2 separate regions of the Homo sapiens genome follow, and region 1 is linked to region 2. Evidence: fine-mapped expression QTL. A gene starts in region 2. The other region holds a variant in brackets. All regions are shown on one strand. Distances are from middle to middle.

Region 1 (2,895 bases), 40 kb after region 2:
TCCCGTTCCCTGTCGCCACTTCCCACGTCCTCCACCATGTTCCATCCTCACAGACACTTTGGGGGCAACTTCCCCTGCAGTTGCCCAAGCCAAGTAGTCAGCAGGAGCTTCATGGCTGTTAGCTGGAGCGGAAGGCTGGCTGCCTGGTTGCCACAGCAACAGCTGTTGTAAGTAAGTGGTCCTTGTGACAGAAGACAATTTAATAAGCCAGATCTGGGGGCCTAGTGGGAAGGTTGCTAGTGGCTTTACTGGGTATCTTCTGTGGTGCTGGAGCTGTAGGCAGGCAGGTGTGACTGAGGAGAGTTGGAGTCGGGGGAGGCCAGGCATCTGCCTTTACCCAAGGGCTGGAGGCTTTTGTCCTGCAGAGGTAGGCCCAGCCAAGAGGGAGCTGCCTCCTGTGTCTTCAGAGATCCCGACACTCAACTCTGGACATCACCCAAGGCCGAGGCCTTGCACTTCTGCTCCCAGCTAGAATGAACTAGCTTGTATCAGAGCAGTTCTTCTGCTGAGAACAACTGGACAATTTGGATGAAGCATAAGAAACATCTGTGTGCAGTTGAGACTGAGGCAGACAGGACAGGTGTCCATATCTAGGGCCCGATTTCAGCACGTGCAGTAGCCCTGGGAAAATGGCATGCTGTTTCTGCATCTCTGTGCTCCTAGTAAAACAGCAAAACTCCTGGAAAGAGTTGCCTATCCTTGCTGTGCTGTTTCTCTCCTTTCATTCTTTCTTGAATCCACTCCAGTGAGGTTTTTGTCCCTACTGTTCCTCCAGAATTGTTTGTCAAGGCTGTTCTCACTTCATTTGCTCCCTAAGGGATCTCGCCTCAAGTCTCAGGTTCCTAGGAAGCTGACTCGGAGACGGAGGTTTGCATGCAGCAAGTTTATCTGGCAGTACTTTGGAATGAATACTCGCAAGGCACACAGGATGGTGCAAAGGGAGATGCTCCACTGTGATGGTGTTGCAGCAAAGACTGTGGCTGACCTCCGGGGGTGCTCCAGAGCTGGGGCAGCCTCATCCGTAAGGTGGGGTGGGGAGTGCTGAGCAGTGTGCTGTGGAGGCATTACCTTGAGTCTTCCTAATGTCCTTAAGGAAGAGGTTCTGTCATTGTCCCCATTTTGCAGGTGCAGAGGTGGAGGCTGAGTGAATTATACATCTTGCTCACTGTGGGGAGCTGAGACTCAAATCAGGTCTTCCTGCCTCCCAGAGCCCTAGCCACGCTTCTGCTTCAT[A/G]AAGCCTCCAAGAAGCGTATTGAGGAAACTCCTGGGCCAGGTCTCTGGGAGGCCTGTGACTGTCACTCCCCTGGGCTGGCTGCTGGGAACCCCATCTTCACCATGGAACTTTCAGGCTACAGTGGAGGCTTCCCACAGATTCTGTCCTTATCTCCTTCTAAGACACCAAGGTGTCCGTGTTACAGGGTCTGATGGAGCAGCTCTGAGATGTTACAAGAGTTCGAGCAGCCTCAGAAGCAGGATGAAAGGATGAAGCCCCAGAGAGCCAGGCCTCTCTTCCCCAGCCCATCAGCGGCTGCTTTTAGCACGTGTGTGCACATTTTAGGAAGGGATGTTTCCTAGGGTGCTGCCTCCTTTCCCCACAAATGGCTCTGAAACTTGAAAAAACAAAAGTCAATTCCAAAATAAGCGAATCTCTAACCACTGGGTGAACCCCTCTGTGTCCCCTTGAAGAACTTGTATTTAAAGTGTGTGTGTGCTACACCCGCACACACACATGTGCTCTGATACACACAGACACATCCCTGTCCACAGCAAAGCTTGTGCCTGTGTATACACATAAGCACACTCACATATTCACAAATATGCAGACCCAGAAATGGAAACACTGAGCAGCATCAGCACTGGGGTGATGCCACTCCTGCCCTTGCTGTCACTGGGGCTGTAGCTAGTGATGCTTCTGCTGCTGCCACCTCTAAGGCCACCTCTAAGAGCCGTTACCCTCTAGGGAGCCCAGGCAGCATTCTCTGATCTCAGAAAACCACGCTTGCTTTTGCCTATTAGGGTCTGGGGTGATGTTTGAAGCCTGCAGGAATGGTTTTAAATATTGATTTGAGTCATCTGCAGAATCTTCCATTTCACTTGGGGTGTGCCCATTTAACCTCTGGAGAGCTACTGCCAAATCACCTGCCCTACCTGCAGGCCCTCCTCCTAGGTCCTAGCAGTCCCCTGTGCAATGACAGTTGGTAGAGGTCTTGGAGTTTGGTTCTTGGTACAGCTTCTTGAGAGATCTTTCAAAGCAAGAGGACATCCAACTCAGAATTAAAGCAAAACTCCTGTTCCTACCCCCACACTCCCCTCCCCGCCCCATCCCAAAGGCATGGGACATAGGAAGTCAGAGGTACCAACTTGGGATTTACCTTCTGGTTCTTCCTGTCCGTGGAGCCCTCCCAAATTGAATGCTTTTCAGCGGTACTCAGAGTACAAGAAATTCTTCCTCTGCATCATATTCTCTCTCACACACTTTAAAGTGCTTGCTGTGAGGCAGCCCCCTGGGAGTGCTGAGCTAATTCTATCCCTGGCTTTGTTCCTTTTTTCAAAATCCATGTTTAACCAGTTTGGCCCAAAAGGAACTTGGGGATTTCAGGCTCCAGGGAGTGCCAAAGGCTTGGGATTGCACCAGGGATTCTGAATCTGGACTCCAAGAATGGACCTCAGGAGTTTGTGAGCCTCTGAAAGCCCCTGCAGCTGCGTGAGAGTTTATGTGTGCTTTTTTCCTGAGGAAAGAGTCCATAGCTTTTAACAGGGTCTCAGCAGGTGTGCGATCACTCTTCCCTACATCACCCAGAAAAGGTTAAGAACCATTGCCTCAGGGACAGAGTATGTAGCTTTATTTTTTTAAATTATTATTATTTGAGACGGAGTCTCTCTGTGTTGCCCAGG
Region 2 (2,895 bases):
CAACCTCAACTCCTATCAAATCCTAGGCCCCCTGCAACGCCTGGCAGCTCTCTCTCTTGAACACATCAAGCTCTTCCATCCTCTGGATTTTTGCAAGGCCTATTTCTGCAGTCTCTCCCCTGTCCTCACCTCCCCCTTCCTTACCTCTTAAGTGATTCATCCACCTTTCTGAGAGCTTTCCCAAAGGCCACCTTACAATAAATTATTTCTTCCTCTGTTGGATCCCTACTTTGTTGTTACACATCTATTCATTGAGCGCTCTGTGCCCGACACTGTGCTGGTTTCCTAAAACTCATCCAAGCCTCTTGCTTTCTGCCTGGAGTGAAGAGTAGTTCACGTTCTGATTCTCAGTGCCTCTAGGGCTGGAGCGGAATCTTAATGTCTGTGTCCTCGTCTCTCACCACCGCGTTTTGCACTTTGTCGAAAGGTGTCAGATGGTGAGATGGCTTCTAGACTGGGCTCTGCCCACTAATTAGCTGTGTGGCCTTGGGAGAATCATCCGGCCTCTCTTGCTGCCCTTCTTTCCGATGAAATAATGCTGACGATGATATTTCAGGGTTGTCCAGGGGTCAATGAGGCGGGATAGAGGGAAGCATCGTGAAATCTGGGAGCCCCAGGCCAGCGAAAAATGTGGAAGGGCCGTACCCGCACTCTCCTAGCACTGGGTGTGAGGCAGCGTCGTTTCCCCTTCGCGCTCTTCGAATGTCAAGTGCACCAGCTTCCAATCCCTCCTCTGGGCGGGCCCGGTCTGGCTAATCTCAGCTGCAGATTCCAGTACAAACTCAGGACTCTCCCCCGCCCAGCCGCCCCTACACAAGGACTCGCCGAACACACCTTGAATCCCGCGCCAGAGCGCAGCCCGGAACTGCAGCTCGCGGCGCGGGCCCAGGTCGGGGGTCGCGCGTCTCCAGTCGGTGACTCAAGGCCGCTCGGTCCGGGGGTGGGTGTGGGTCGGCAGGACCGACCAGGGCCGCGCGGGGGCAGCTGCCGGGCGTTCGGTCACCTAGCGGTGGGAGCCGAGGCTGGCTTTGGCCAGTCGCCATTCCGCCGCGGGCGTCTGTCTCGCCGGGTTCCCGGGCGCGGGAGGAAGGCCCGCGCCGCTTCCCACTCGGCGCGCTTCTCTCCCAGTGCGCAGTGGCCTGGTGGGTCAGCCGGCGGCGGCTGGAGCGCGGGGCCGGCCCTGCGCACGAATGAATGGGCGCCCGGGGGACGCGCGCGCTCGGGGCTGAAGGGCATTAGGACCGTGAGGATCGCTCCGCGATCCTGTCTCTCCCTATCACCCCCCCGCCCCCCCACCTCTCTCCTTTTTCTGCTCTGCAGGACTGAGCAGCTAGGCGCGAGCGAAAACAAACAGCTGGGGCTGCGAGCGCCCCCGCCCCGGCCCCGAGAGCACGCCGGCCCAGTCCCCCACCTGGGGCGCCCGTCTGCCCACCATGAGGAAGATCCGCGCCAATGCCATCGCCATCCTGACCGTAGCCTGGATCCTGGGCACTTTCTACTACTTATGGCAGGACAACCGAGCCCACGCAGCATCCTCCGGCGGCCGGGGCGCGCAGAGGGCAGGCAGGAGGTCGGAGCAGCTCCGCGAGGACCGCACCATCCCGCTCATTGTGAGTACGCCCCGAGCGTCGGCCGGCCGGCTAGGGAGCCGCGGCGCGCGTCCAGACCCTGCGCGGCGGCCGAGGGCGCGGGGCCCGGCCAGGGCTGAGTGCCCGCTGCGCCGGGCCGGCTTTGTATATGTTGGAGCATTCCTGCCCGTTGTTATGGCAACCTCTGCCGGGCGGCGGGGCTGGGGCGCACCGACTAAGGGAGGGTGACAGAGGGTGGGGGCTGGGAGAAAGTGCTGCAAGTTTGGTGGGCCCGGCGTGCGCGCGCGGCTGGGAACGTGGCGGCTCTCCCGGCTCTGCGCTGCCGGGGCCGGGAGTCTGGGGGCTGCGGGAGCCTCGTGTGCCCCGGAAGGCTGCCGGGCCCAGCGCGCGGCGAGCGGGCGGTGGGAACCACTCGCAGCCGAGCGCGTAGGTGGCAGTGCGCAGCCCCTCTCCAGCCTTCTGGGGGCAGAGGACATCGGGTGGGGGCGTGGGTAGGGGAAGGCTCTCTAGGCGCTGCGCCTGGCTTCGAACCCCCTTCTGAGCCGGGTCAACTTGAACCCGCTTCTTCGGCGCGGACACCCAGCTTCCCCGGAGTTCTCTGGGTTGAGGAGAGGTCTCGCACTGTACGCGTCTCTCACTCCCAACCTTAGGGTCCGCCACCACGGGTAGGTGGGCAGTGTCAGCGCCCGAACTTGGCGATACCCTTGCATGAAGTCAGCCTCGCGACATCTAAGCGGGCAGGGAAACAAAGGCAGTGTGGCACAGCGGGGGCGGCGGCGGGGCTGCGGGGGCCCTTGGCGCTCTGGGGACCCGGGCGGGGGCGTGCGGAGCCGCAGCCGCCCTGCAGGGGGCGATCCTGTCGCCGTCTCCGTCCGAGCCCCAGGTGACAGAGCTGTGCGTGGCCAGGCAGGGGCACCTGTTGAGGCGGGAGGCTTTGGCACCCGCCGAGAGTGCGCTCGAGCGGGCGCATTCTTCCAGACGGGGGCGGTTGGTGGACGAGAGCCTCGGACGACCCTCGGGAACTACCAGGGCGGGGCAGCCTGGCCGGATGAGGACCAGGAAGAGGAGAGCCGAGTGGGGCGGGGGTAAAGGAGTGAGGAAGCGTGGCGATTCCGACAAGGAAAGATCTGGGCCTGGGGGTGGAGGGGTGAGGAGATCCGCGGGGGAGGTGCAAGGTCCGGAGGGCTGAGGCTTGTGTGGAGCCGAATCCGAGAAACGCATCCAGACGCGGATCTGAACCCCAGGAATATCGGGAAGTTCATTGGAGAGTGTCCCCTCATATTCCCATCCTGCCCCAGATTCCGAG

Alleles and levels. Positions count from the first base shown, and alleles are read on the strand shown. Sizes are in standard deviations (SD) of each study's normalised expression.
For the expression in atrial appendage of the gene that starts at base 1,301 in region 2, allele G in region 1 goes with a higher level than allele A (small effect, 0.23 SD a copy in GTEx).

The links. PIP is the estimated chance that this variant, and not a neighbour inherited with it, causes the effect.
Region 1: its variant is the best candidate, but not a certain one, in a credible set for the expression of GALNT16 in atrial appendage (GTEx, PIP 0.82).

What each region holds. Positions count from the first base shown.
Region 1 is chr14:69,298,505-69,301,399 of GRCh38, forward strand. All of the region lies in intron 1 of GALNT16 (polypeptide N-acetylgalactosaminyltransferase 16), which reads left to right. LOC105370549 (a long non-coding RNA gene) reads right to left here and starts at 2,293. Exons shown (of 2, transcript XR_943979.3): 1 at 2,149-2,293; 2 at 1-1,610. The variant A/G (reference allele first, on the strand shown) is at 1,234.
Region 2 is chr14:69,258,858-69,261,752 of GRCh38, forward strand. GALNT16 (polypeptide N-acetylgalactosaminyltransferase 16) reads left to right here and starts at 1,301. Exons shown (of 15, transcript NM_001168368.2): 1 at 1,301-1,610. The coding sequence starts at 1,434. GALNT16-AS1 (GALNT16 and EXD2 antisense RNA 1) reads right to left here and starts at 1,670. Exons shown (of 4, transcript NR_184249.1): 1 at 1,433-1,670. RefSeq lists a silencer at 2,347-2,406.